Homo sapiens: one gene and its partners. The protein of the gene in region 4 purifies or fractionates together with the protein of the main gene of each other region. This does not show direct contact. Each region holds a gene or a part of one and is shown on either strand. Other genes may lie near its edges. The genes, in order: ARV1, KIAA0319L, CCDC85C and CD4.

What was found.
Region 1: the proteins of CD4 (region 4) and ARV1 purify together in Homo sapiens (affinity purification with mass spectrometry; 2 studies listed by BioGRID and IntAct, with this or other methods). This does not show direct contact.
Region 2: the proteins of CD4 (region 4) and KIAA0319L purify together in Homo sapiens (affinity purification with mass spectrometry; 2 studies listed by BioGRID and IntAct, with this or other methods). This does not show direct contact.
Region 3: the proteins of CD4 (region 4) and CCDC85C purify together in Homo sapiens (affinity purification with mass spectrometry; 2 studies listed by BioGRID and IntAct, with this or other methods). This does not show direct contact.

The regions. Positions count from the first base shown.
Region 1 is NC_000001.11:230,981,753-230,989,375, forward strand, and holds part of ARV1 (protein ARV1), read left to right. Parts: intron 1-6,567; coding exon 6,568-6,687; intron 6,688-7,623. UniProt on the Homo sapiens protein: Plays a role as a mediator in the endoplasmic reticulum (ER) cholesterol and bile acid homeostasis. Participates in sterol transport out of the ER and distribution into plasma membranes.
Region 2 is NC_000001.11:35,546,972-35,554,594, forward strand, and holds part of KIAA0319L (dyslexia-associated protein KIAA0319-like protein), read right to left. Parts: intron 7,549-7,623; 5' UTR 7,521-7,548; coding exon 7,379-7,520; intron 1-7,378.
Region 3 is NC_000014.9:99,600,779-99,609,126, forward strand, and holds the start of CCDC85C (coiled-coil domain-containing protein 85C), read right to left. Parts: upstream 3,430-8,348; 5' UTR 3,182-3,429; coding exon 2,389-3,181; intron 1-2,388. UniProt on the Homo sapiens protein: May play a role in cell-cell adhesion and epithelium development through its interaction with proteins of the beta-catenin family. May play an important role in cortical development, especially in the maintenance of radial glia.
Region 4 is NC_000012.12:6,799,045-6,806,667, forward strand, and holds part of CD4 (T-cell surface glycoprotein CD4 isoform 1 precursor), read left to right. Parts: intron 1-493; exon of another isoform or gene 494-579; intron 580-1,027; 5' UTR 1,028-1,094; coding exon 1,095-1,143; intron 1,144-1,262; coding exon 1,263-1,427; intron 1,428-7,623. UniProt on the Homo sapiens protein: Integral membrane glycoprotein that plays an essential role in the immune response and serves multiple functions in responses against both external and internal offenses.

The DNA of each region.
Region 1 (7,623 bases), on a different chromosome or scaffold from region 4:
CCTGAACTGGCTTATAAGGCCCTATGGAGTCTCCTGCTACTCTTTCCCTTCTTTATTTTACCGGCAGTCCCGCTGGCATCCTGGTGTTTCTCAGACCAGGCAGGTTCCTTCCTCAAGGCCTTTGCACAATGCCTGGAGCACTCTTCTATCAGGTATCTGCGTGACTAATTCCCTTACCTCCTTCAAACATCTCAGAGAGTCTACTCTGACTACCCTATTGAAAAGTATGATATGCTTCCCAGCTTTATCTTTCTCTATAGCACCTATCTTCTTGTAATCTTGTATATAATTGACTTAATGTTGTGTGTCTTCTCCTACTGGAAAGTAAGCTACACAAGGACAGACATTCTCTCTGTTTTATTCATTAATGTAGCTGTATCACCCAGAACAGCGACTGACATTTAGTAGCCACTCAGTAAATGTCTGTTGAATAAATGTATCACTTCCAGGTTTTTAGATTAGCATATGCTTGGCCATCCAGGTAGGAGGAAGAGAACAAGATCTTATATGTGGTCTAAACTTAATAACTTTTGGACTGGTCCAATTAAATGGTCAGTTTGGAAGATGATAACCACATAACTGAATATGGTCTGAAGAAAAGCTGGTATTTGTATATGCATTTTAGTTAGTAGTCTTCAATAATACAAAAAATCTCTTTTTGTTGGCATTAAGCTAACAAAATCCCTTTGCTAAACAGCAGGTGTTTATTTTGTTTATGGAAAGGCAAAATAATTATTGGATAGCTGTTTAGGTCAACATTCACTTACCCCCTCCCCTTTGTTCCCTAACATGATACTCTTTCTCCCAAGAGATGGACTTTGGAGTTATATTTGGAATATTGAATGGTGGCACAGTACTTTATGGATTCGTTATTGTCCACAGTCATTCCATAATGAGACAGAGTGTCTAATGGCCTTGTCGCTATCATGCTAATGCATACTAAACTTTAGGCCATAATAGCACGACTCAGGGAAAATCATTTTGTTGATGCCAGACTAAAAAATTAAACCATGAAGCAATGAATTATTTTAAAGGCCCTCCAACCTCTGAGATACAAAAAGTAAGAAGTTTTTAAACATTAGACCATGTGTTGTGACATAATCTCCAGAGTTTCTAAGTGGTTACTCATATATACTTTGGTCTCTTCCCTGCCGAACTTGGAGTCAGCAAGATCCTCAGCCTGATCGCCCACGTGTATTTTTCATCCCAATCTCCTTTCCTTTTGCTCTGCTTGTTTCTTCACTGCCATTCCTCCCAGCTTGCCTTTCTGTGTTTCTCTGACTTTCCTCTAATATATCATGTGTCCCTTGCTTTTAACCAATCCTGCTGCTTCAGCTCTTCACAATTTATTATAAGTACGCTTAAAGATACAGTACTTTCGGCCTAGCACGGTGGCTCATGCCTGTAATCCCAGTACTTTGGGAGGCCAAGGCAGGCGGAGCACGAGGTCAGGAGTTCAAGACCAGCCTGACCAACACGGTGAAACCCCATCTCTCTAAAAATACAAAAATTAGCCAGGCGTGGTGGCGCACTCTTGTAATCCCAGCTACTCGGGAGGCTGAGGCAGGAGAATCTCTTGAACCCGGGAGGCAGAGGTTGCAGTGAAGCTGAGATTGCGCCACTGCACTCCAGCCTGGATGACAGAGTGAGACTCCGTCTCAAAAAAAAAAAAAAAAAGTACTTTTTATTTGCTATAGGGCTTGGCTTATTTTAAGTGCACAGATATTTAACAAATTCATTATTATGTTAACAAAACAAAACTCCTATAAGAGTCTCCTAAGTTTCCATTTCCTTCAGCACTACAGCATTCGGCTCCCACCCTTGGGATCCTAGATGCAAAGATGAATAAGACACAGCCCTACCCTTGAGGAGCTTAAAGACTTAAAGAAGGGAAGGGAATGCTCCTAGAGATGACAGGAAGGAAACAGCAGGAATATTTATGAAAAAAATTGGTTTGGCCGATTTATATTCTAAAAGAGATCTGATTCATTAGGCATTGGAGAACACAGCAGGACAGAGGAAGTCATATCCATGTTTAGACAGGTGATGGAAGCAGCCTGAATTCCCAGAGTATGCTTGGTCCTTGCGTTGTAGGGATTCTTTAGAGGAAGATTTTTCTCTTTTCAGGATACTTGCCTATAAAGTAGTAAATGAAACAATTTTGCCAAAATAAGAAACATAGGAAACATAGTTGCTAAATCTGGGCAGGCGTGATGATTCACACCTATAATCCCAGCACTGTGGGAGGCTAAATCGCAGATCACTTGAGGTCAGTAGTTCAAGACCAGCCTGGGCAACATGGTGAGACCACCCCCTGTCCCCCACCCATCTATACTAAACTACAAAAATCAGCTGGGCATGGTGGCACGCGCCTGTAGCCCCAACTACTCAGGAGGTTGAGGTGGGAGGATCACTTGAGCCAGGGAAGCAGAGGCTGTAGTGGGACAAGATCCTGCCACTGCACTCCAGGCCTAGGCGACAGAGTGAGACCTTGTCTCAAAAAGGAAAGAAAAGAAAAGAAACATATATACTAAATTGAATAAATACAACTCCCAGTGGTCTGCTTTGGGATGTCTACATTTGTTTGTTTCGTGTGTGTGTGTGTGTGTGCGTGTGTGTGTGTGTGTGTGTGTGTGTGTGTGTGTGTGTAGTTTTCCTCTTCACATTCAAGGTGAAGGCAGAGGGAAAGGAAGTTGCAAGCAGCACTTAAGGGAAAAGCAAATAATAGAGGGAGAACAAGGAAAGTGAGGTGTAAACTTGTTGTGCCCAGGGGTGTTAGAGAGAACGCCACACTTTGAGACGAATTAAGAGTCCTTTATTAAGCCGGCGGCCAAAGAGACAACTAATGCTCAAAATTCTCTCGGAAGGGGCTTGATTAACTTTTATATCTAGGTTTAGGAAGGGGAGGGGGACTCAAATGCAATAATTCTACAGAAGTAAAAACATGCAAGAATCAAAAGAAGCAAAATGGTTACAGAGAGATAAACAACTTAAAAGACAAATGGTTACAAGAAGAGCAACGGTACCAGGTGCAAGGTTCTAAATCCTTCATTATAATTAGATATAGGGTCTATGCCGGACACGAACTCAAGGTTTTATGTTGTTATCTCTTTGAGAAAAATCCTGGGAACTTCATACATTGTTGGTGTTAGTACCTTATCAGTTAATTGGGCTTTTTTGAAATGCTGATTATCTGTTTACCCAGGCCAACTCCTTACGGAAGGGGGTTGGGTAATGAGCCCTTAGTGTCTTGTAAATTAAGAGGTCAATTGGAGTTTGTCCGGCCTTCCCAGCTAGAGAGAGTCTTACTTACATGAGAAGCAAAGCTAGGTGATTAAAGAGACAAGCAGGACAAAATTCAAAGTAACGAGTTAGAGTAAAAACAAGGTTAGGCGTTTCAAACTGACTGAGAGGGAACCAGCAAACTTTAATGACTTCTCAGCATTTATAAAACATGCCGAATGCTAAGAAGGGAAATGGGCAAAGCACACAGCATATCACATACTACCAGAAGCTGCCTCCTCTGTTTGATTTCATATCACCCTGTGCTTATCCCATTGTAGCCGTTGGATGTTACATAGTCTGATGACTGTGGTCATGAGACCATATCATAGAGGCATGTTTGTCTTCTGCTTCTAAACTGTTAGATCCTTGAGGATAGAAACTGTGGCTGAAGGTGAATATCTAGCACCTTGGAAGTTCCTGGTCCATAAAATGGCCAAGAAAAGAGAACGATTGTTATACATGTAATAGCCACTCCAAAGACATTTGTCAAACAAATGAATGCAAAAGGAATAACAGCTGCTGTGTCTCCTGGTGCTGGTTTCTGCCTACCTCCTTCCAAGTATTGTCCAGATCCCCAGCCTTAGACTTGTGATGCTGTCCAAAAACGGGTTTTAGAGAATATTTAAAGGACAGAGAGAGGACCCCTGACTTTTTAGGGTTTCCATTTTAACATGAAGCAGCCTCTCTGGTGTCCCAGTCTTGCATGTAGAAAGGAAGGAGATGTGTTCCATGTGAGTAGCCAAGGGAGACCTATCAAACAGCTGTTTGTCATGGACATGGAATTTCTGATTCTGGGGCTTCTGTTTAGATTCTGGCTTACTCCCTGCTCAGGTAAAGAACTGCAAAAATATTAACTCCTTATGCGTCAGTTTGATTAAGCAGAATTTTTTTTTTTTTGAGACGGAATCTTGCTGTGTTGCCCAGGCTGGAGTGCAGTGGCGTGAACTCAGCTCACTGTAAGCTCCGCCTCCTGGGTTCACGCCCCATTCTCCTGCCTCATCCTGTAGTTGCTGGGACTACAGGCACCTGCCACCACGCCCTCCTAATCTTTTTGTATTTTTTTTTTAGTAGAGATGGGGTTTCACCATGTTAGCCAGGATGGTCTCGATTTCCTGACCTCGTGATCCACCTGCCTCGGACTCCCAAAAGTGCTGGGATTACAGGCATGAGCCACCATGCCTGGCCCTGATTAAGCACATTTAAGTTTGAGGTAACAGCACGTCTCCCTTCATTGGATCACTCGGTAACTGGAAAACATACCTATTCTTGTAATGACACAAATGAAGTGGAGAAGCTATTTAAATTGGGAACACATCCAATGTTTTATTACATTTGAATTGCAGGGTCGGTATTCTTCAGTGCCCTTCATTTTTCTTCCAGCACTTTAATGTAATTAAAAGGCCAGCCTAGAAGGTTTTTACACTCGCAACTCTTCTATTTTATCTTCTCAGAGTTTCCAAATGTTATGCGTTTGAATTGTAGCCATTCCAGTAGTCCCCGTTCTCTTTGGGGTATATGTTCCAGGACCCACAGTGAGTGCCTGAAACCACAGATAGTATGGAACCCAATTACCATCCATCGGAACACGTTTCTGTTCGTGCCTTCCACCCACAAATGTAATACTTTTCCTATTTTTTTTTTTTTTTTTTTTTTTTTTTTTTTTTTTTTTGAGAGAGAGAGACCGAGACAGGGTCTTGCTTTGTTGCCCAGGATGGGCTCGAACTTCTGGCTTCAAGCGATCCTCTCACCTCGGACTCCCAAAGTGCTGGTATCACAGATGTGAACCATGGCACCTGGCCCTGCCTTTTCCATCTTAGCACTTCTCACATACTGTGGCCTTAATTTTTGCAGTTTGAAATGCCACAGCAAAACTAGCACAATTTCTTTTCTTTACAGTTGCACAGGTAGAAGATTCATTCTTACTGTAGATCTTAACCTCAGCATAAGATTGGTTTTTTCCTTATTAGTTGAGAACTTTCACCTTTTCACTTAAAGGATTTTACAGCTTCTCTTTGGCTGTAAAATTGCCAGCATCACTACTCTCATGCTTTGGGGCTATTATTAAGTCAAAGAAGGGTGACTTGAACCACAAGCACTGCAGTACTGCAATCCTCAATCCTGTTAACCTGGACAGCGACTAGATGACTAACAGGCGGGGAGCATCTGCAACGTGGACACGCTAGACAAAGGGATGATTCACATCCCGGACAGTGGAGCAGGACAGCATGCAATTTAAAACTTATGCTTATTTCTGGATTTTTCCATTTCATATTTTCAGAATGCTGTTGACCTCGGGTTACAAACTGCAGAAAGCAAAACTGTGGCTACGGGAGGACTGCTGTAGTTTTATAAAGTGAATGGTAGCATTGATGCATTTTTGTGAATAGTACTGCTTTAGAGGTCACATTTCTAATGAGCTTGTTTGTGTATACCTGCGTTTTTTATGTTCTAGTGATGTTGGAATTTGGTAACATTGTAATCACATGTGTCTAGAGAATCTGAACTCAAAATTGGTGACCCTTCAGGGGGGAATAAAGCCATTTAATGTGAACTGCTAAGAGCCAAGGGAGCCTTGATTCTGGAACCTAGAGCTAGGCTGCACAGCCTAGTTCCTTGCACAGCCCAGCACTCTCCAGACTGTACAGACAGTAGAGTCTGTCTCTACTCTAGCAGAGAAAGACCATTTTCTTTCCATATCCTTGATGTTACTGGAGAAAAACCCAGGCTTCCCCTGTTACCGGCCACCTCAGGATCATTCGGATCATGCCCCATTCTTTACCTACTTGCAGCTCTCAGTAGTTCTGGGGACAAGGTAACTGCTGAGTACTTTTCTCCAAATCATGTGCCAAGAACCATAAAGTCAGGGGCATCTAGCCAAGAGGCAACAATTTATCAATGAAAGTGCATTATAAATATATTTATTTTGTAATAATTGCTACAAATTGAAAGTGGAATTGGACATAGAGTCTCTGTAGATTGAAAGTAAAATCTTCTGGAATACTTTCCTGCCTAAACTCAGTCTTTAAATTAGATATATTTTTAGCTTCTTGAATATGACGTTAAAATATTAATATTCCTAGCCTAGAAGATTATATTTAGTCCTTTCTGAAACCCTTTCTTATATAGATGAACATTTTGTATCTGAATGGAAGTTTATATAAATAATTGCTAATATGGCCATATTGCTATCTGTGTCCAAAATAGACTCTGCTGTTTTGAAATCCTTGAGGATTTCAGAAAGTATACATTTGCTTGTTCTAATATTATCTTGTATTATTTCAGAAATCCTGCCAGAAACCTGTAGACAAATATATCGAGTATGATCCTGTTATCATCTTGATTAATGCTATATTGTGCAAAGCTCAGGCCTACAGACATATTCTTTTCAATACTCAAATAAATGTAAGTTGTGATAATTTCATTTTTTAATTTTATTTGATGCTGTTACATTTTAAAAGAATAATAAGAATTTTAAACAGAAGTAAAGAATATTATAAAAGAGGAAAAGAAATTCTAATGTGAGAGTGGGTCTTTTATTGCAACATATCTGGAAGTTTCTAGAAATAATAGATGTTGATTTTGAAAGGTGCACAATGCTTAGTGAGTGTTTAAGAATATGGTCACTGGCAGGAAACTGACAAGCCATGATCTGAATTACCTGCTAGTAAATTGAAACAATCATCACTGGTTTTTAACAGAATACAATTAGACATATCCAGGTAGGGAGAGAATTATACCTAAATGAGTTAAGCAAACATTAAAAGAAAAATGTTTTTTTAAAACATAATTTATTGCATTTTATACTTTGCTATTAAAGGAATGTATAAGGTAAATAACATTCAGTTTAATCAAAGTCCTGATTTATAAAGTTGAATTTTTCAAAATAAACTTTTAGTTTATTGAATTGTGAGCTCTTTAATAGTTTGGGTAGAGTTGACAGATAACATACAGGACAGTCAATTAAATTTGAATTTCATATATACCATGAATTAATTTTTTAGTATAAGAATGTCCCAAATATTGCATGGAACATACTTATACAATAAAAATGGATTCATGGTGTGTGTGAAACTCAAATTTAACTGGCGGTCCTGTTATTTTATTTATTTATTTATTTTTGAGACGGAGTCTTGCTCTGTCACCCAGGCTGAAGTGCAGTGGCGTGATCTCGGCTCACTGCAGCCTCTACCTCCTGGGTTCAAGTGTTCTACTGCCTCAGCCTCCCAAGTAGCTGGGATTACAGGCACGCATCACCAAGCCCAGCTAATTTTTGTATTTCTAGTAGAGATGAGGTTCGCCATGTTGACCAGGCTAGTCTGGAATTCCTGACCTCAAGTG
Region 2 (7,623 bases), on a different chromosome or scaffold from region 4:
ATATATAAAAGTGAAATTTTATATATAAATTTATATACATATATAAATAATGGAATTGCTGGATCATATATATATTATTACATGTTTATATACAAATAGTGGAATTGCTGGATCATATATATTATTACATATATTATATATATGATCCAGCAATTCCACTATTTATATATGTAATATATACATATATAATTACATATAATTATACATATTATACGTGATTATATATAATCCAGCAATTCCATTTATATATAAATTTATTTCATATATATTTATATATAAATTGCATATATATTTTACTATAGTGCAATTGGATATATACATATAGTGGAGTGGAATTACATATATACATTATATATATATATACACATGATCCAGCAATTGTACTATTTATATGTAAATACATGTATTTATATATACAGATATCCAAGAAAATTAAAAACATATGTTCACACAAAAATGTATACATAAATGTTAAGAGCAACATTGTTCATAATAGCCAAAAAGTAGAAACAACCCAATGTCCATCAACTGATGAATGGATAAACAAAAGTGGCATATCCATAAAGCAGAATATTATTCAGCCATAAAAAGAAATGAAGTACTGATACCTGCTAGGATATGGATGAACCTTGGAAATATTATGCTAAATGAAATAAGCCAGACACAAAAGGCCACGTATTGTACGATTCCATTTATGAAATGTCCAGAATAGGCAAATCCATAGAGTCAGAAAGCAGATTTGTGGTTTCTAGTAGCTGGGGGAGGAGAGGATAGGGAGTGACTGCTAATGGGTACAGGGCTTCTTCTAGGGGTGAGAAAAAAGTTCTGGAATTAGATAGTGGTATATCTCAATTTTAAAAAACTTCTTGGCCAGGTGCAGTGGCTCACGCCTGTAATCCCAGCACTCTGGGAGGCCAAGGTGGGTAGAATGCTCAAGGCCAGGAGTTTGACACCAGACTGGCAACATGGCAAAACCCCATCTCTACTAAAAATACAAAAATTAGCCAGGTGTGGTGGTGCACCCCTGTAGTCCCAGCTACTCGGGAGGCTGGGGTAGGAGAATTGCTTGAACCCTGGAGGCTGAGGTTGCAGTGAGCTGAGATCGTACCACTGCAGTCCAGCCTGGGCAACAGAGTGTGACTCTGTCTCGAAAAAAAAAAAAAACTTCCTCTAATCTCTCTACTACAGAACATCTAAATTCTACCCATCTCTTTAGGACTACCTCTACTTGTTTGTATTGAATGAAATTACTGAGAGGTTCCTTGAAGACAGAGTCTCATCAACTTTCTCCTGGACTATTTCATTAACATGCTAATGGATACCCTAACCTCTAACCCTGACCTCCCTCCCTTTTCCATCCATCTCCATCTCCACAATTACCACTTTTCTATACTCCTGCAAAAATTATTCAGAAATTTACCAGTATTATAGTATATTTAATACAGTATTAATAGTTTTATATTTAATACTAGCATTAAAGTATTATAGTGTTTGCCTTAAGAGGTGCACAAGACAAATCCCTCGGGCATGAAAAGAAAATATTAGAACTCTTCATATTTGCTTCTGTCAATCCCTTTAACATTTTGTTTTTGGCATCTCTTACACATATATAAGACATTAGTATAAAATTACGTGTTATAATGTATAAATTTATATACAGGGGTACATTCTCAATTTTTCAATGGATTAAAGTGCATCATGAAAAAAATTTATAGACCATCTACCTAAAAAGTTTAAAATTGAAGCTTCTTAGCATAGCATACAAGATCCTTTGTGACCTAGCCACCACCTACCTCTTCTGGAGCTGCCATACCAGCTTTGCTCTTTATATTCCAGTAGTGCTAAACTGCTTGTGGAGTTTCTTCTATATACCAGGCTGTTTCACTTTTGTGCCTTTGCTCTTGCATTCCCATTGCATGGGAATACCCTTTGAATCCTTCAAATTCAACCTTCACAACTCTGTTCAGGCATCAGCTTCTCTAGAAGATGCTTCTCTAGAAAGAACTCCTTAGAGCACCCTCTTTGCCTCCAAGCTAAATGCTTCTCCTACGGTTCCAGTAGCACTCTGTGCGTTGCATCTTTTTTTTTTTTTTTTAAGAGACAGGGTCTCCCTCTGTCACCCACACTGGAGTACAGCGACATGATCACAGTTCACTGCAGTCTTGAACTCCCGGGCTCAGGTGATCCTCTCATCTCAGCCTTTCGAGTAGCTAGGACTACAGGTGCCCACCACCACCAGCTAATTTTTTTTATTTTTGTAGAGATGAGGTTTCACTATGTTGTCCAGGCTGGTCTTGAACTCCTGGCCTCGGGTGATCCTCCTGCCTCAGCCTCTCAAAGTGCTAGGATAAGCCAATGCACCTGGCCTCTACCTTTTCACTTGCTACTGGTAGTTATTCCAGAGAAAGGATTGTATTGTACTAATCTTTATTATCCTGGTGCCTAGTCTAGAAGCAGACTCCTAGTAAGTTCTCAAAAAATGGTTCTGAATTGAATAATTTATCTCTGTACTCAAAATACGTATTAACTAACTGTATAATCTCCTTCCCAGAGGTAGGGAAATGTCAGTACAAGTTTTCATAGCCAACTGTTAGCTCTGGGCCTAAGGACATTGGCTTCAGTGATTCTCCCTGTTTCAGATTTCTAGGGCCAATTAGGTCCTTGCATCCCCCACAAACATGCACACATAACTCTTCAGATGTATACATTCTTTCTTTGTATGTGTTAATATATTTGTTAAGATTTTAGTCAATCTTGTTGGTCTCAAAAGCATTGGTCTCCTTAAAGTGCCTTTCCATATCTCTGCTCTGATTTTGTTGTTTTTAAAGCTTAATTCTCAAAGAACAATTCCCTTATTGGTAATTTATTAATTTATTCAGTCAACAAATATTTTATGCATCTACTATGTGCCTTGGTACCCGCTAAGAATATCTAGCATAACTAAAAGAGGCAACATGTCTGCTCTCAAGAAGCTGACAATCTATTGTAGGAATTTCCAAAACTCCTGGGATCACTTCCTATTTGTCTCCAGATGAGAATCCCCAGGTCCAAAACACTATTTTTCAAGCCACTTAACAATAAAATTAAACAGAAAAATAGCCATTCCATGGCACACAAGGAAAACACAGACAGACCATCTTTTATCAAATTGTAATCAATGCTTTCTAACAGTAGGGCTTCAGTACTGAACCCAAAAGTGGAAATAAAAAAGCTCACCATGTCTAAGTCAACAGCTGCCTGGGGCTCTACCAAAGATGGAGCAAACTCCTAAGTGGTAAGCGGGAGTGGAGGATAACTGCAGAGCTGCCTTAATTTGGTTAGTTTTTCAGAAATAATCCATGAGCTAAATAACAGCAGGAATCAAGAATGTATTTTATCGGAAAAAAATGTAAACACTCAGGTAAACACTGAGTAAACTCATGAGTAGAGAAATACTGACTCAGGCTCCCACCAATAGGTTTTTGCTGTTATTATTTTGTTGTTGCTTTTTCAAGTAGGTTGTTTTCCCCCTTATATAAAAAGGAATACAAGTATACCAAAGAAAGGCCTGGAAAACACAGAAAAATATGAAGAGATAATAATTCCTCTAGTCAAAAAAATACATAAATATTTAGTTGTACATCTTGTTTCAGACTGTTTTCTATTACATAATTTTTTCTTCTTTTCACAAAATTGACAGCATATTGAATATGTAGTTGCATAACTTGATTTTATCATTTAATATTAGGAGCATTTTCCCGTGTACTTTTTTTTTAAATTATTAAACATTTTTTAATTCTAAAGAGACAGGGCCTCACTATGTTGCCGGCTGGTCTCAAACCCCTAGGCTCAAGCAATCCTCCCATCTTAGCCCCCGAGTAGCTGGGACTAGAGACGTGTGCCACCACACCCAGCTTTTCTTTTAAAATATGAATTTTAAGACTGGATAGTATCCCACCATGTGGAGATGCAAAGATTTCACCACTCTCCTATAATTAAGCAGGTTTCAGCAATATTTTGCAGCACAGAATAAATGACTGTTGATCAGTGCTCTCATTCACAACTATCTAAGTGTATCCTTCAGATAAATTCTTAAATGAAGAATTAAGTCGAAAAATATGAATTTTTTTAGGGCTCTTGATATTTATGCCAAGAAGTTCTCTTTTCAAACTCCTCAGCACTATATGAGGACAACCACATCACCCCTTGGCAGCACTGGATAGTTTTACTTTAATTTTCATCAATATGATAGATTTAAAAGGATATCTCATTTTAATCTGTCGTTTTGATTGGTAATGAGAACGAACATTTTAAATATATTCATTTTAACTTCTTATTTATGGCACTCTGTTTATGCCTTTTATTTATTTGTTCTTTTTTCCTTTCAGATGGAGTCTCGCTCTGTTGGCCAGGCTGGAATGCTGTGGTGCGGTCTTGATTCACTGCAACCCCCGCCTCCCGGGTTCAAGCGATTCTCCTGCCTCAGCCTCCTGAGTAGGTGGGATTACATGTGCATGCCATCACGCCCGGCTAATTTTTTGTATTTTTAGTAGAGACGGCGTTTCACTATGTTGGTCAGGGTGGTCTTGAACTCCTAACCTCAGGTGATCCACCCGCCTCGGCCTCCCAAGGTGCTGGGATTACAGGCATGAGCCACCGCGCCCAGCCCTATTTATTTTTTCTATTAGGATATTCCTTTTAAAAAAAAAATGGGAAGGAGCTCCAATTAAATCAAAGTATATAACAAATATGTCTGTCACATGTTGCTTGCATGTTCCCTCAATTTGAACATACATGGCTCTTGATCTTTTAATTTCCATGATAAAAGCTCCAAATTTTTCTAAAATAGAACTGGCATAACCTAATCCCCACCAGAACTACACCTAACACCACCACCTTTGCACTTCTATACTTAATTAGGGTGCTGTTTTTAAGCACCAAGCTCAAGGTTACTAAAGACTTGCACAATGAGCCTACAATGCTGTGTTTAACCAAGTGCTAGATTGGAAAGCACAGAAAGACTTGGAATTGCTTCTTCATCCTCTATACTTTGAATCCCTCAAATAGGAAGCTGCTTACCATGGTACTGGGTAAAAAAAAAAAAAAAATTGCCACCAGGCATGGTGGCTCACGCCTGTAATCCCAGCACTTTGGGAGGCCAAGATGGGCAGATAACGAGGTCAAGAGATGGAGACCATCCTGCCAACATGGAGAAACCTGGTCTCTACTAAAGATACAAAAATTAGCTGGGTGTGGTGGCATGCGCCTGTAGTCCCACCTATTCGGGAGGCTGACGCAGGAGAATCACTTGAACCTGGGAGACGGAGGTTGCAGTGAGCAGAGATCGCACTGCGCCACTGCACTCCAGCCTGGTGACAGAGTGAGACTCCGTTTCAAAAAAAAAACCTTTGGTCCTCCAAAACATCCCCTATGGTTGGAAGGCAGAGTACCAGAAGAGAAAGAGTATGAGCTCTACAGTGGACAAACCTGGATTTAGAATCCTACCTCCACCATGTTCTTGCTGTGTGACCTTGGCCAAGTCATTCTGCCTCTCTAGGCCTCAATTTCCTTATCTATAAAATGAGAAGAAAACTATCTATTTTTGGGTTATCATGAAGATTAAATGAGATAAGGTATGTAATGTTTACAATTAGGAGTCTGGTATGTGGTAGGTGTGCTTCAAAAAATGTGATTTACACCAGGCATGGTGGTTGGTGTCTGCAATCCCAGCTATTCAGTAGGCCAAAGTTGGAGGATCGACTGAAGCCAGGAGTTCGAGACCAACCTGGGCAAAACAGCAAGACCCCATCTCCTAAAAAAATGTACAAATTAGCCAGGCAGACGGGTGTAGTTGCTCACATCTGTAATCTCAGCACTTTGGGAGGCCGAGGCATGCAGATCACTTGAGGTCAGGAGTTTGAGACCAGTGTGGCCAACATGGCAAAACTCTACCTCTACTAAAATATAAAAAGGATAAAATATAAAAATTAGCCGGGTGTGGTGGTGTGCGCCTGTAATTCCAGCTACTCAGGAGGCTGCGGCAGGACAATCGCTTGAACCTGGGAGGCAGAGTTTGCAGTGAGCCGAGATTGTGCCACTGCACTCCAGCCTAGATGATGGAGTGACACTGTCTTAAAAAAAAAAAAAATTAGCCAGGCATACTAGCTCATGCCTGGAGGCTGAAGCAAGAGGACAGCTTGAGCCCAGGAGTTTGAGGCTGCAGGCAGCTATGATGGCACCATCGCACTCCAGCCTGGGTGACAAGACCCCATCTCTTTTTTTTAAAGAAGTGATTTTTCCCTATTCTGATGGTGCTAAATCAATTACTTATTTAATTCTAATGATCTTATATAAAATGTTGACCTGAAATAGTCAGCTGTCCCAGCAAAGCATCATCTGGGGTAAAAAAAAAAAAAAACCATGTAGATCAGCTTTCTGTCAAGTACAACTTCCACTGCTATAATTATGCAATCATCAACCATCACTGCAAGACAACAAAAACCCCAAAGCTGATGTTACTGAAATTGCTAAATACAATAATTACTAGGGTCTCAAAATCATGACCACCAATTCCTTTAGGAAAGCAACAGAAATCTTTGTAATTATAAGGGAAAAAGGCTGATTAGTTATCCCAGATGGTGGTCTCTACAGCAGAAGGTTTTTGGTCACTGGCCAGAATGGCAGCATACACAGAAATCTTTCTCATATTGCTGTTTTCTCACACTCATACTATGAAAGCACAATATCAACAAAAGAACTTGAAAGAAAGAAAGAAAGAAAGAAAGAAAGAAAGGGCATTCTCCTTTGAAATTTAGCCTTCTTGGCACTGATTCCTGGCAAGAGGCTTTACCCTGGTGAAATAATCTCTAGGAGGAAAGCATAGTCTAAAAAATCTATCAACATAGCCCCTCTCTATGGAAAAAGTAAGGAACGCATTTTTCCCATAAGTGTAGATTCCTTTAGGAAAGGAAAGGAAGCTCAAGACCAGCCTGGGCAAATAGCAAGACTAAGCACCCATGCTGAGTGCTGTGCTACATGCTTTAATTATACTATCCCTCAAATCAAACCATGAGGTAGATAATAACCCTTCCTCAAAGATAATAGGTAATTTGCTCAAGGTTTTATAGTCATTAAGTGGAAATACCCAGTTGACTTTTATCAAGTCTTAAAACGGTTGTGCCAATTCTCCCTTATGAAAAAGAATCCAATTTAAACTCTGGTTCCAAAACAAAACAAATAAATAAACCCAACAGACCTCAGTCACCAAAAGGATGACCATTTCTGTCAATTAGCAGATTGTTTTTTCTGCCTCCTAATAGTCCTTAAAATGAACTGAGGGACTCACATAAAATGCCCTTTTCTAAAAAAAAAAATCTTAAATCTATAAAGAAAATAGTACCTGTTGACAACCACAGAACGCTGAAGCAAAAGCAAGTATAAAACAGGTACAGGCTTCTCAACCACTTCGCAGATGTCTGCCAATAATATCCTGATAAAATCCAGGAAGCAGGATTTGGCTTGACTCCCAGCCTCTTCTCCATGGCCCTCCAGACAGGCAGAACCAGTACACTAGAAGGACAGAAAGAGAAGAAATTACATGCCGAGTAATTAATAATTAATTCCTGGAAATGTGGAATGCTAGAA
Region 3 (8,348 bases), on a different chromosome or scaffold from region 4:
TTAGACACCACCCAGACAGAGACTCATTATCTCCCTCAGCTCAGGCCCAATCTTTGCTCAATTTAAAGTTACAAGTCCCAGAATAGAAAAGCCCAGTTTCACCAGGTGAGGTGGCTCATGGCTCTAATCACAGCTACTTGGGAGGCTGAGCTGGGAGGATCACTTAAGCCTGGGAGGTTGAGGCTGTAGTGAGCCATGAGTGTTCCATTGCACTCTAGCCTGGGTGACAGAGTGACACCCTGTCTCGAAAAAAGGGAAAAAAGAAAGAAAGAACAGCTCAGTTTCTAAGAGAAGGGCCTTTCCTGGTTTCCAAGCCTTCCATTTACATTAGTGGGACCACATCCCAAGGCCACACATGGCTTTAAGAGACAAAACTAAATAATAATAATTCCATCTGTAACCGAAATTTGTAATAATAATGCTGAATTTTCATTTCACCCCAAAGCAAGGTTTGCTGCCACAACATTTGCAGCAGTCCTGTGCTAAGTGGGCTTGGGGGAGGATGGGTTCTGTGGGAAACCCTATACTTCAACCTCCCACTGACCCCCAGTGGGGTGGAAAACTCAGTGTAGCCTAGTCCTCCACTCCTGTATTATTCACTGTCGCAGCTGACATGCTGAGCCAGACTGGGGCCGCATCTCCTTGCCCAAAACTCGACAGAGCCTTTCCTGCAAGTATGCTCTAAACACTCCAGCCCTCCAGTGTCCTGCAGAGAGGCACTCTTGCCAAGTGTCATTGATGACGCAGCTGAAAACCAGAAACATTTCACTTTCCAGCCACGAGACTGCAGCAATCTGCTCTTTGGACTGCACTTAGGGAAACCGAGGCCCAGATAACTGACCCCTCAAAAGCCCCCAGGACGGCAAAATCAAAGGGGCTGAGGTGCTCTGAACAGCCCCAGCAAATTAAACCACCTAACTTTGCGCTACTCCCACTGCCCTGAAGCAGCCTGTGGTGGGAGGTGGGGGTGGATACAGTGTTACAAAGAGAAACCTGAGTTGTAGCCATAGATTGCTAATCAGTAACAAAATATCCCTCTAAACCCAGTCCTGCCTTGAACCCACAGGCTCAGGATGGTAAATAAAGGAAAAACATGCTGCACTGCCCCTGCCCCACCTCCATGGGTATGTCTCCCACCCCAGCCCCCACCCCAACACGTCTGCAGAGGCCACTTGGCCACCAAACTAAGGAGAAAACGTCCCTCCCCAGCTCAGGCTGAGGGGTTCTGGGGAGGGCAGTTATTGCAGGCTTAGACACACTTTCTCTGAATTAGGAAAGGCTTTAAAGGGAACCAGAAAGAGCTGTTCATTCTCCACCTTCAGGCAAAAAGTTCAGGCAGTTGCAACTACCAGCAGAACTGGAAGCCAAGCTACCAAAAAACGTGGAAGAACAGGGAGGCCCCGGATCCACCAGCGAGGAGGAGAAAGCTGGCAGGGAGCAGAAGGGCTGAGCAGGGGGCTGGGAGAGGGAGCAGGCTGCAAGCTCCCACAGCCCCAAGCTGGGGCCACCCTCTGCACTGGGCGCAGCAGTAACATGGGCGTAGAAGACAGAAGCTGACAGAGGCCAAAGTTCCTCCCACCCACACCCTGGTCACGGATGACCACGGCACTTCCTGTAAGGCGATCAACAGTTTATAAATCCCTTCAGAAGGTTTATCTCCACCTCAAACCCACGAGGCAGAGGTCATCATCTCCATTTCACAGACAAAGAAACTGAGGCACACAGAGGAGAAAAGCTAGAATCCGTTCCAAATACATCTCCCTCGGGAAAGTCTTAGAGTCTCGGCTGAGAAAGGTCCCAGGACTAGAAGGGCGGAATTTATGGCAAACAAGAAAGGCTCTGAGCCCCAGGCCTCTCCCCAACTGCCTCTGGGTCTCAAGCGGCTGCCTGTGCACCTTCCCAATCCCCACACCCCACTGCAGAACTCCAGCCACCGCACACACGTGGACGCTGCTTGGTTTGGAGGACACCTGTTGCTGCAAGAGGGGAAATTCACTTGCGCTCAAGGGGCCTTGTATCCTTTGCTGTTTAGAACTTCCCGCTACTAGGCAAGGATTTCCAAGGCTGGGATGAGGCGCCCACCGCCAGCCCAGCAGTGACAGACCCTAATTTTGGCAACTACACCCGCTAGAAACTTTTCTGGGACCGGACCGGCAGCAGGTTCTGAGCTGGACAAAAAGACGCTCCACCACTGAACCGGCCCACCACCGCCCAAAGCCCCACTTTGGGTGAGTGCGGGATCCCCTGGCCCAGGATCCATGACAGCTGGAGGAGTCTGGAGTGGCGGCCGCATGAGTGGGACAGCCAGGGACCACCTCCTCTCGCCGCAGCCTGGGAAAAGGGCTGCAGCCAGGGAGACCCGCGCTGCCCGGCCCGTGTAGTCCTTACCGTGCAGGCCGTTGGGGATGCTGCGGTGGTGCGGCGGCGCCGACAAGTCGTCCAGGGACCGACGTGTGGCTCCTGCCTTGCCGTCGGGGGCCTTGTGCGGCCCGGGGGGCAGCAGCGGGGGTGGGACGTGGTGGTGGTGGTCGGGGCTGCCGCCGCTGCCCGCGCTGGACGTACTGCTGCCGTCGCCCACGTCGCGGGCCCCCGCGCCGGGCGCGCCACCCGACAGCGGCCCGCTCAGGCTGGCCTGGCTGTCGATGGAGCTGCGGGAGCCGGCGCCGCCCCCGCCGCCGCCGCCACCGCTTGCGGCCCCCGTCGCCGCCAGTGCCGCGCGCTCCTCGTCCAGCAGCAGCACCAGCTCCTTGAGCTCCAGGTTCTCGCGCAGCAGGGCCTCCTGGCGCGCCTCGAGCTCGCGCAGCTTCTGCTGCGAGCGGGCCACCTCGTGCCACACGGCGCCGGCCGCGTGGCGCCCGAAGCGCTGCCACTCGCGCGCCAGCTTGCGCCCCTTCTGCCGGTCGTCGTCGAGGAAGCAGCAGAGCTCGCGCAGCTCCTGGTTGTCGTCCTGCAGCCGCTGGTTCACGTCCTTGAGGCCGCGGATCTCCAGCAGGTGCTGCTGCAGCCGCCGGTTCACGTCGCGCATCAGGCCGCCGTGCTCCAGCATGAGGCCCACCTTCTCGCCCTCGGCGCGCCGCAGCCGCCGCGCCAGCTCCTCCTTGCTCCAGCGCAGCAGCTCCTCGTCCGGCACCTGGCTCAGCTCCTCCGACGCCGCCGCCGCCGTCGCCGCGGGCTTAGCCATGGCGGGGCCGTCACCGCGGCATCGCCCTCGCCCTCGCCCGGCCGGCGCTTCCCCGCGCCGGGGCTCCGCTGGGCCGGTCCGCGCGCGGGCGGGGGGCGGCCGGGGGCGCGTGCGGCCCGCCCCGCGCCGCCTGGCGCGTCCTCTCGCCGCGCCCGCCGGGGCCGCCCGGGAGCCCGCGCGCCTCGGGGTTGACGAGCGGAGGCGGCTGCTGCGTCGGCGGCCGCGGTGCCGGGCGCTCTCAGGGTTCTGGAGAAGCAGGCGGAGGCCCGCCCCCGGCCCAGCTCCCGGAGCCCCCGCCGCCCCGCCCACCCCGGGCGGAGAGTGGGCGGGTCTCCGAGGCCCGGCCCCGCCCCCGAGGGCGACTGGGGAGCAGAGGCGCGGCCCCCGCCGTCCCCCTGCGCGGTGCGCCCGCCCGTCCAGTGCCCTCTCAGAGGCGCGTTCCGGCCGCGGTCCCGCCCTCCCGGCCGGGCGATTGGGCCGCTCCGGGGGTGTGCGGGAGGGGCGGGGCGCGCGCGGGGGAAGCTGCGGCGGTGGTACGGTCCATCCGCGGGGTTTCCGACCCCCGCCCGCGGCCGGCTCCCGGCGGTTCAAGTTTCTGCGCCCGGAGGACGCGGCCTTAGCCAATCCCAGGGCTACAGGGCGCTTTTAAAATGCAGGTACGGCTGCGGGGAGGGGGACGGTGGGAAAGGTAGGGCCGGGCTTCCCTTAAAGGCGACGCGCGAAAATAGCAGTCGAGCCCCCTCCCCGGCCCGCGTCCCCGGTCCTCTTCCCTCTCCCCAGATAAACAAATACCCACGATCCGGGCGACGGCGCCCCTTCTCCCTCCCGGGGGCACCAGAGTTCAGGGCAGTCGGAGACACAGCGAACAATAGGACTGTGACATGGGGGTCGCTCTTCCCCGCAGCAGGGCGGCTCTTTGTCCCCTTCCCTGCCCCCAGGCTCCTCCGCCCCCGTCCCCACCCGGGTCCCCTGCCGGAGCACGCGGCGGGGCTGCGTCTCCACTCCTAGCCCAGGGCTGAGCTAAACGCTGGCGTCCGCGCCCCTGCAGGGCCAGGGCCTTGCCAGCCGCGTCCCGCAGCGCGGTCAGTACTCTCTGCCCCGATGGGGCGAGAGCTCCGGGAACCTGCCCCCTGCCCGGAGCGGCGCTCGGAGCCCCGCTCCACCTCCGCTCACTCGACCGCTAAATCCCTGGGATTCGGGAGATAATCTGCAATTCGCGGGGTGGAAACCACTGGGAAGGGTGGGAAGGTCTCCCACTGGGGCCTGAACGCCGGGGTCCGGGGGCGCCGAGCCGGCCACAGAACTCCCCACCGGCGGCCTCGCGGGACCCCCGGGCTTCCCACTGCCTGTAAGTCTGTCTCGTTATCCTCCGGTCCCCAAAGCGCATTTACGGCGCGTCTACCGCCAGCAGGCGGGGCGGGGCGGGGCGGGGGGGGGTCCCTCCCCCGGAACCTGCAACGAGATCAAATCCGCGCACGCGACAGTGAGCGGCCCACGGCCTGGAGCGCGCGCCCGCGCAGCAGCTGATGCCCCATTTACAGTTGCTAAGCCGTTCATTCAGCTGTGTACTCAGCGCCTACTCGCCGCGGGGCCTGCTCCAGCCCCGGGGGATTCTGCAGGGCACCGAACTGCCCTCTGCGGGGGACTTGGCGTCCTGGGAGCAGGATGGGGAGAAGATAGACGAGCTAGATCAGGATGAGACTTGTCTTAAGTGCTGTGCGGGGCATTAAGTCGAGCTGCTGTCATAGAAAGCATAATCAGTTGCTTTAGATCCAGCGGTCAGGGAGGTGGGGAGGCACATCTAAGCTGAAGTCTGATTGGCAAGGTACAAAGATAAGGGGAAGGGCATTCCAGGCAGCAGGAACAGCCAGTGCCAAGGCCCTAGGGCTGGCCTGTTACAGACCTGTTCCAAGAAGGCCAGTGGGGCTGGGGGTGGGCCAGGGAAGAGGCGTGAGAGCTGAGGTCAGAGGTCAGAGGGGCCAGATCATGTATGATTCCAAGACAGCTGGGGAGGCAGTGGGGTTTTAGCAGGGAAGCAACATGACCTGGTTTACCTTTTTAAGAGGCTCACCCTGGCCCACATGTTGAGAAGAGATGGAGGGGAGTACACAGAGAGGTCCAGATTCAATATCTCATCTCCCACCCGTTCGCCACTCTCTCCAGACAGATGGTCAGGGGAGGGTGGTGGGGAGAGGATGGGCTGAGCACAGCTTCCAAGGTTAAACCCCAGGGATGCTGAGGGTCTCCCAGGCCCTGCCCAAGAGAACCAGCTCCTGAGGGGAGGGGACATCCTCCCCTCTGAGGCACTGCTCTGCTGGTCCAGCACAGCTCAGTTTGGGTTTAGAGAGGGAGGGGCTTTCAGCTTCTGCCTGGGGGAGCTGCAGGTCTGTCTCAACCCCCAGGAAGCCATATTAACTTCAAGGAGCTCCTTGCAGGCTCCCTGCAGAATGAAGCCTGTGCACAGAGTTGCTCCCTGGAGATCGAAGCGTAAACGTTGGATACACCATAGGAAAAACCCACCAGCTCACCAGGGAAGTTGCTGAGACAGCACTGTGCTTTGTGAGAACCCCCTCCCCGTTCGTGCATGGCTCCTGGTGGTTCCTGGGGCCTGTTATCTCTGCCCCCTGATCCTCCAGAGCTGGCAGCTTCCGCTGAACTTCCAAGAAGAAAGTGAAGCCTCTATCTAGGTGGGGTTTGTTTGCGTCATCTACAGGCTGTGTGGACCAAGGACCAAGAGTTCCTCTGTGGAGTCTTGATAGCTTTGCTCACATCCTCAGGGTAGAACAAAGACAAGGTGCTAGTGGTGGTGGTACTGGGTGGTTTGAGGGAGGGTCTCTCTGCTCCCCACACCAGGGCTGGGAATGCTTGGGCAGAACAGGACAGGACCAGAGGAGGTGAGAGGGCCCAGGGCTGAAACAGCGTCCTGAAGGAAAAGGGACTCCCCAGGCCAGAGCCCCCTCCCGGAGGGCCCATATCGCAGGGTCCAGCAGTAGGTGCCATGCCCCCTGGAGTACTCACAGCCCAACAGAACCAGGATCCCAAAATGTCAACGTGACTTTGCCTTTTTTTTTTTTTTTTTTTTTTTTTTGGCTAAGACAGGGTCTCACTCTGTCTCCCAGGCTGGAGTGCAGTGGCATGATCTTGGCTCAGTGCAGCCTCAACCTCCGGGCTCAAGAGATCCTCCCACCTCAGCCTCCTGAGTAGCTGGGACCACAGGCACCACCATGCCTGGCTATTTTCTTTTCTTTTCTTTTTTCCCCCATAGAGACAGAGTCTCACTGTGTTTCCCAGGCTGGTCTCAAACTCCTGTGCTCAAGCAATCCAATTCTCCTGCCTCAGTGACTTTGCTTCTTAAGCCCCTTGGTCATGACAACTCTGCTTTGTTATGAAAACAGTGAAACCAAATCATGGTGCACTAACAGTCATACTGTAGGTGCCCAGGGAAAGTAGCTGTGAGTCTTTTCAAAATAAAGGTGCCCCACCAACATTCTACCCCCCTTTTTTTAAAGACTCTCCCAGGATGTGTGTGTTCATTTAGAGCCACACACATTTGTGAGAGCCAGCAGGGGCTGAGAACCGGTACGCTAACACACGGTAGATGCTAATACATGGTAGACAAAATACTCCAAAACCTAGGGCCTGTGGGGGGAGTACTGGTACAAGCTGGTGACAAGCAGAGTGTGCCCCTCACTTTCAGGGGGAATGGACTTTCTTACTCTTCTCTATGGTTGGGGCTGTGAGCTCCAACCCCAGAGGCAGTACCATTTGGTGTTTGCTGAGTGAATGTCAAACCTCTCAGTACGTGACAGATTGAGTCTGAGGCTTCATTTTGAAGGTGAGGAAAAACAGAGCCCCAGAAGGGAGATGCCTGGCCCAAGGTCACTTTCATTCATTAGCTCACTGAACATAGAGGAAATCTATGAGTATATATGCATTTATACACAAACACATTTAAATGGGAATATATATATACACATTGCAATGCATTGTGGTAAGTACTGCAAATGAGAATGGGCAGAACACATCATTGTGGGAGCATGCTCAGGCACTGGGAGTGGCTTCCTAGAGGAGGTGAATCTTGAAGGAGTTTGTCGTCTTGTGGAGTGGGGAGGAGGCTCCAGGTGGAGGAAGCAGTACAAGCAAAGGCCCAGAGGTGAGCAGGCGAGGGGTGTGGAGAGACACTATTACACCTTGCAGCTGGGGTATACAGAAGGGAACAGCAGGGTGGGGAAAGTCGGGAAGAGGTTGAGCGATGGAGCTGGGCAGAGGAGGGCTTTGTAAGCCTCAGAAGGAAGCTGGACCCTTTCCCTGGGAGCTCTGATATCTAATAATAATGGCAATGACAATGACAATAACCAACACCACCTGCCGCTTATCCTAGACTCAGTATATGCCAATGATTCTAACCTGTCCTCTTTTGAGGGTTATAATAAACCTATGAGGAGGTGTCATTAGCCCTTCGAGGATTGAACATGGGTTCTTATTGGCTGGTTGTTTGCCTCCAAGAAGCTCAGCTCATTGGGCGTGAACTTACAGGCAGTGTTCAGAGGCTTGTGGACACCCAAGGACTCTGGTATGGCCAACAAAGTGTTTGGTGGTAGCTGAATCTTCTTCAGGACAGTGAGGCAATGGTGGCTGACCAGGTCTGGGCCAGACTATGAGGTATCATCCTGAAAGGCTACCAGCAGCAAGAAGTCAGGGTCCACTGAAAAGTGGTTAAGTGTTACTAATATGGACAATGTTGACTGGGCACTTTCTAGGTACCCAGCACTGTGCTAGAGTTCCACATAGATTGTCTCACTGACTCCTCACTGATGCGGTAAGAACCCTCTGTTCCCATTTTACAGAGTAAGAAACTGAGGCTCACACAGGTTAAGTCACTTGCCCAAGGTCACATGGCTAGCAAGTGGCTGAACCAGGATTTGAACCCAGGACCATCTGAGCTCCAGAGTGTATCTGACCCCATAGACTACTGTCTCCCACACCTCAGTTTCCCTTCTCAAGAAGGAGGAATGGGGTGGATGCTCTGCGATGTCTCTTCTGCTGTGACTCTGGTTCTGTGATGCTGAGTGTCTGCAAGGTGCCTGGACCCATGTTCACCACCCACTTCCTCCTGCTTCAGGCTTTTCCATGTTGTGACCAAGCCTCAGTGGCTCTGACGCCTCTG
Region 4 (7,623 bases):
CCCCTCCTGGCCTGAGCATAGCATTTCGTGGTGTGTATCTCAGAGCATCCAGTTAGGGGTGTGCAAGTTTACTTTGTTACTGGCTGATGTTGTGAAGTCCCAAGTTGTTGGTGCCGCAAACAAAAAATTGGACATGACACACACAAATAGCAAAGCAGCAAAAGTTTATTAAGCACAGTACGATCCACTATGGATCAAGGATGACCTGCGAATGGTATCAGCATCACTTTGCTATATTTCATGGCCTTTTCTATGTGTTTTTTTTCTCTTTTTCCTCAAGCTGCCTAAGCTTTAGCCAGCATGTGCCTTTTGGTTGACAGGTGGGTTGCTTAGTTTCTTGGCCTCTGTGTGTTTACGTGTCATTTCCTTCCCATAGTTTTAAGTACATGCATGATATGCACTCTGTAGGCATGAACCTTAAGTAGCTAATTACTATACGGGGTCATTTTGAGGATATCTTTTCTCTGTAGTACATGTGCATCTTTTTTTGCAGTGGTGCAATCTTGGCTCACTGCAACCTCCTCCTCCCTGGTTCAAGTGATTCTCCTGCCTCAGCTTCCTAAGCACCTGAGACTACAGGTGCATGCCACCACGCCCGGCTAATTTTTGTATTTTTAGTAGAGATGGGGTTTCACCATGTTGGCCAGGCTGATCTCGAACTCCTGACCGCAAGTGATCCACCCACCTCGGCCTCCCAAAGCACTGGGATTACAGGCATGAGCCACCGCACCCAGCCTAGTATATGCCCATCTCTTAGGAGCTGCTCCTAACTGGTTTGGTTTGGATCTAGCCAGCCATGGGGCTCCTTATTCACTTATTTATCTTCTGTTTTTGCTCACCTGCCTCTTTCTCTTGCTTCTGCTCCTACTCATTCCTTCCTTAATCCAACCTCCAATTCCCTCTGCTATTCTCCTGCCTCAAGTTCACTAGGCTGGCTGCAAGGGTCCTGAGGGAGAGGTTGTGTATCGCCCCTGTATACTCCAGGTCCAGTAAATGTTTGCTGACTAATGATTGGCATTTCCCTCAGGCCCTGCCATTTCTGTGGGCTCAGGTCCCTACTGGCTCAGGCCCCTGCCTCCCTCGGCAAGGCCACAATGAACCGGGGAGTCCCTTTTAGGCACTTGCTTCTGGTGCTGCAACTGGGTAAGTTCTCAGACCTGGGGTCTCAATGCAGATGACGTGGGAGGAAAGGCAAAGGTGGAGGATGGGGTAGAGGGGGACAGCGGCGACATTGAGACCTGACTCCTTTCTTTTCCACTTAGCGCTCCTCCCAGCAGCCACTCAGGGAAAGAAAGTGGTGCTGGGCAAAAAAGGGGATACAGTGGAACTGACCTGTACAGCTTCCCAGAAGAAGAGCATACAATTCCACTGGAAAAACTCCAACCAGATAAAGATTCTGGGAAATCAGGGCTCCTTCTTAACTAAAGGTAGGGTTGCCTGGCTCCCCATCCAGGGAGGAAAACACACTATGGAGTGAAAGCCTTTGGTGTCTGAGATCTGGTCTTAGTTAAACTCTGGGATCCCAGAGGGCTTGGGTTGACAGAAACTCAGTGGCATTCTTATCCAGAGTTTCTCTACACCAACTGCTGGTGGCCCAGGGAAAGGTGGTATGTGAATTTCAATATTTTAATATTTAATATTCATGAACTTATTTTAGTGAGTTTTAGAACAATCACTATCACTTAAAACCCGTGATTTCTTGAGTATTGTTGCTACAGACCTATGTAGATAATACTTTGCACAGTGACTCATATGTATAATCCTAGCACTGTGGGAGGCTGAGGCCGGAGGATTGCTTGAGTCCAGGAGTTCAAGACCAGCCTGAACAACATAGTGAGACTCTGTCTCTATGAAAAAAAATATATATATATTTTTTTTGGAGACAAGGTCTAGTTCTATCACCCAGGCTCCAGTGCAGTGGTGTGATCTCGGCTCACTGCAATCTCCACCTCCCAGGCTCAAGTCATCATCCCACCTCAGCCTCCCAAGTAGCTGGGACTACAGGCATGCACCACCATGCCAGGCTAATTTTTGTATTTTTTATAGAGACAGGGTTTCACCATGTTGGCCAGGCTGGTCTCGAACTCATGAGCTCAAGTGATCCACTCACCTTGGCCTCTCAGAGTGCTGGAATTACAGGTGTGTGTCACTATGCCTAGCCAAAAAAAATTTTTTTAATTAAAAAAAAAAAGGCCGGCTGTAGTGGCTCACACCTGTAATCCAGAACTTTGGGAGTTTGAGGTGGGCAGATCACCGGNGGTCAGGAGTTCAAGACCAGTCTGGCCAACATGGTGAAACCCGGTCTCTACTAAAAATACAAAAATTAGCCAGGTGTGGGGGTGCAGTCCTGTACTTCCAGCTACTCAGGAGGCTGAGGCAGGAGACTCGCTTGAACCTGGGAGGCAAAGGCTGCAGTGAGCTGAGATTGCACCACTGCACTCCAGCCTGGGTGACAGAGCAAGACTTCATCTCAAAAAAAAAAAAAAAGCTGCANATTTATTATTATTATTATTAGTTTATTTATTTATTTTTTTGAGACAGAGTCTCGTTCTGTCGCCCAGGCTGGAGTGCGGTGGCGTGATCTTGGCTCATTGCAACCTCCACCTCCCGGGTTCAAGTGATTCTCCTGCCTCAGCCTCCCGAGTAGCTGGGACTACAGGCGTATGCCACCATGCCTGGCTAATTTTTTGTACTTTTAGTAGAGACAGAGTTTCACGGTGTTAGCCAGGCTGGTCTTGATCTCCTGACCTCGTGATTTACCCTCCTTGGCCTCCCAAAGTGCTGGGATTACAGGCGTGAGTCACTGTGCCCGGCCCAGAATCATTTTTTTCTACTTTTTTTTTTTTGAGGCAAACTCTCGATCTGTTGCCCAGGCTGGAGTGCAGTGGGCATGATCTTGGCTCACTGCAAGCTCTGCCTCCCAGGTTCAAGCAATTCTCCTGCCTCAGCCTCCTGAGTAGCTGGGACTACAGGCGTGTGCCACCATGCCCGGCTAATTTGCGTATTTTTAGTAGAGACCGGTTTTCATCATATTGGCCAGGCTGGTCTTGAACTCCTGACCTCAAGTGATTCTCCCACCTTAGCCTCCCAAAGTGCTGGGATTACAGGCATGAGCTACTGCACTTGGCCTTTTCTCCTGGTTTTAAAACTATTATATGCTCATTACAAAATATTTGGTCAATGAAGAAAAGAATATGGAAGAAAATCAAATGCATGCATACTTCTATCACTCAGAGATATCCTCTGCTAACATTTTGATTGATTTTCTTCCAATCTTTTTTTTTTTTTTTCTTTTTGAGACAGGGTCTCACTCTGCTGCCCAGGCTGGAGTACAGTGGCATGACCACAACACATCACAGCCTCAAGTGATCTTCCCACTTCAGCCTTCCCAGTAGCTGGGACTACAGGTGCACGCCACCATGTTCACCTAATTTTTTACTTTTTGTAGAGATGAGACTTCACCATGTTGCTCAGGCTGGTCTTGAATTCCTAGGCTCAAGTGATCTTCCCGCTTTGGCCTCCCAAAGTGCTGGGATTATAGGTATGAGCCACTGCATGTGGCCTATTTTCTTCCACTGTTGTTCGGCGTGGAGAATATTATATACATAATTACGTAAATGATATCATACTGTATATACCTTTTTTCCTACTCCTTCCTTAAGTTATATCATAATGAGACTACCAATTATTAGACTTTTTTTCTTTTTTTTGAGACGGAGTCTCGGTCTGTCACCTAGGCTGGAGTGCAATGGCGCGATCTCAGCTCGCTGCAACCTCTGCCTCCCAGGTTCAAGCAATTCTGCCTCAGCCTCCCGAGTAGCTGGGACTACAGACACGTGCCACCATGCCCAGCTAACTTTTTTATTTTTTTATTAGAGACAGGGTTCCACCATGCTAGCAGGATGGTCTCAATCTCTCGACTTCGTGATCAGCCCGGCTTGGCCTCCCAAAGTGCTGGGAGTACAGGTGTGAGCCACCGCACTCGGCCTAGACTAACTATTTAAAGTAATCTGGCAATGTTTAACGAATACAAAACTCTAAAACCCTTGGACCTAATAATAGCTATTTTGGAAAGTCTACTTGACAGAAATAAAATTGTGAATATTCTTTTTTGTTGTTTTTTTGAGACAGAGTCTCATTTGGACGCCTAGGCTGGAGTGCAGTGGCATGATCTCGGCTAACTGCAACCTCCACCTCCTGGGTTCAAGTGATTCTCCTGCCTCAGCCTCCTGAGCAGCTGGGATTACAGGTGTGCACCACCATGTCTGGCTAATTTTTGCATTTTTAGTAGATGGGGTTTCACCATGTTGACCAGGGTGGTCTGGAACTTCTACCCTCAAGTGATCTACCCACCTTGGCCTCCCAAAGTGCTGGGATTACAGGTGTGAGCCACCACGCCTGACCAGTGAACACTTAATAATATCTATGGAAAGGTGTTATTATAAGAATTGCTTGTGGGGCCGGGCGTGGTGGCTCACGCCTGTAATCCCAGCACTTTGGGAGGCTGTGGCAGGCGGATCACGAGGTCAGGAGATCAAGATCATCCTGGCTAACACGGTGAAACCCCGTCTCTACTAAAAATACCAAAAAATTAGCCAGGCGTGGTGGCGGGCACTTGTAATCCCAGCTATCCAGGAGGCTGAGGCAGGAGAATTGCGTGAACCCAGGAGGCGGAGGTCGCAGTGAGCTGAGACCGTGCCATTGCACTCCAGCCTGAGTGACAGAGTGAGACTCCATCACAAAAAATAAATAAATAAATAAATAAAATATAAATAAGTAAATAAAGGTCAGGAGTGGTGGCTCACGCCTGTAATCCCAGCACTTTGGGAGGCCGAGGTGGACAGATCATGAGGTCATGAGATCAAGACCATCCTGGCTAACACAGTGAAACCCTGCCTCTACTAAAAATACAAAAAGTCATCCAGGTGTGGTGGCACACACCTATAGTCCCAGCTACTTGGGAGGCTGAGGCAGGAGAATCACTTGAACCCAGGAGGCAGAGGTTGCAGTGAGCTGAGATCGCGCCACTACACTCCAGCCTAGGCGACAGAGCAAGACTCTGTCTCAAAATAAATAAATAAATAAATAAATAAATAAATAAATAAATAAAATAAAAAGCACACACACACACACACACACACACACACAATGCAAAAGACCCACCCTACTACAACTAACATTATATTTAATGGTGAAAAACTGAATTCTTTCTCCCTAAGTGCAGGAATAAGACAAAGATGTCTGCTCTTACTACTCTTATTCAACATAATACTGCAATCCCTTGCCAGTGCAATAAGGCAAGAAAAATGAAATAAAAGGAAAACTGATCAGAAAGAAAGAAATAAAACTGTTCCTATTTGTGGATGACATGATTACATAGAAAATCTCAAAGAATCTGTAAGAAACTTCTTAGAATTAATAAATGAATTCATCAAGGTTGCAGAATATAAGATAAACATAAAAAATCTATTGTATTTCTATATATTAGCAAGGAACATGTGTACACAGAAATTAAAACTACAATACCATTTATAATTGCTCAAAAAGGCCAGGCATGGTGGCTCACACCTGTAATTCCTGCACTTTGGGAGGCCAAGGTGGGAAGATTGCTTAAGCCCAGGAGTTCAAGACCAGCCCGGGCAACATAGTGAGACCTTGTCTCTACAAAAAGTAAAAAATTAGCTGAGCATGGCCGGGTGCAGTGGCTCACTCCTGTAACCCCAACACTTTGGGAGGCTGAGGCGGGCGGATCATGAGGTCAGGAGATCGAGACCATCCTGGCTAACACGGTGAAACCCTGTCTCTACTAAAAACACAAAAAATTAGCTGGATGTGGTGGCAGGCGCCTGTAGACCCAGCTACTCGGGAAGCTGAGGCAGGAGAATGGCGTGAACCTGGGAGGCGGAGCTTGCAGTGAGCTGAGATTGTGCCACTGCACTCCAGCCTGGGTGACACAGTGAGACTACGTCTCAAAAAAAAAAAAAAAAAAATTAGCTGAGCATTATGGTGTATGCCTGTAGTCCCAGCTACTGGGGAGGCTGAGGTGGGAGGATTGCTTGAGCCCTAGGAGGGCAAGGCTGCAGTGAGCCATGATCACACCACTGCTTTCCAGCCTCGGTAGGAGAGCAAGACCCTATCTCAAAAAAAAAAAAAAAAAAAAAAGAAAAGAAAAGAAAAGAAAAGAAAAAGAAAGAGAGAAAGAAATACTTAGGTGTAAATCTAAAAAACATGCGTAGGGCCAGGTGCAGTGGCTCATGCCTGTAATCCCAGCACTTTGGGAAGTTGAGGCTGGCGGATCACTTGAAGTCGGGAGTTTGAGACCAGCCTGGCCAACATGGTGAAACCCCGTCTCTACTAAAAATGCAAAAATTAGGCAGGTGTTGTGGCGCATGCCTGATCCCAGCTACTTTGGAGGCTGAGGCAGGAGAATTGCTTCAACCCGGGAGGCAGAGGTTGCAGTGAGCCAAGACTGTTCCACTGCACTCCAGCCTGGGCAACAGAGTAAGAGTCTGTCTCCCGAAAAAAAAAAAAAGAAAAAAGAAAGCATTGAATTGTATGCTAAAAACTACACGATGCTGATTAAAGAAGTCAAAGAAGATCTAAATATATGGAGAGACATGCTGTACTCATGGATTGATGGATTGGAAGACTCAACATAAGAAAGATATCAATTTTCCCCAAATTAATATACAAGTTTAATCCAATTCCTATAAAAATACCAGCAAGATTTTTTGTAGATATAAACAAGTTGGCCAGGTGTAGTGGCTTACACCTGTAATCCTAGCACTTTGGGAGGCTGAGGTGGGAAGATCGCTTGAGCCCAGGTGTTCACGACTGCAGTGAGCTATGATTGTGTCACTGCATTCCAGCTGGCACTCCAGCCTAAGTGACAAAGGGAGACCCTGTCTCAAAAACAAAAACAAAACCAAAATAATTTTGCTCTGCAAAATCCCTATTAAGAAGAAGAAAAGAGGCTGGGCACAGTGGCTCACCGCTGTAATCCCAGCACGTTGGGAGGCTGAGGCAGGCTGATCACTTCAGCCCAGAAGTTTGAGATCAGCCTGGGCAACATGAGGAAACCCCGTCTCTACCAAAAAAAAAAAAAGGTACATACACACACACACACACACACACACACATACACAAGTATATACACATATATATACACATACAGGTGAATAGATGTATATACATCTATTTATTGTGAATATACATCTATACACACACGTGTGTGTACACATATATTTAAAATTTATTTTTATTTATTTATTTATTTTTGAGACAGAGTCTTGCTCTGTCACCCAGGCTGGGTGCACCTGTATTCCCAACGACACAGGAGGCTGAGGTGGGAGAATCACTGAGCCAGGGAGGCAGAGGTTGCAGTGAGCCAAGATGTTGCCTGGTTGCCTGGGCAACAGAGCGAGACCCTATATCAAAAAAGAAGAATAATAAGAAAAGACAGTTTACAGAATATAAGAAAATATATTCACAATCCACATACTTAGCAAAGGACTGGTATCTAGAATATGATAAACAACTCTCAAAACTCAAAACCAAAAAAATGAACAATTCAATTAGAAAACAGGCCGAAAAGGACATACAGTTGGCAAATAAGCACATGAA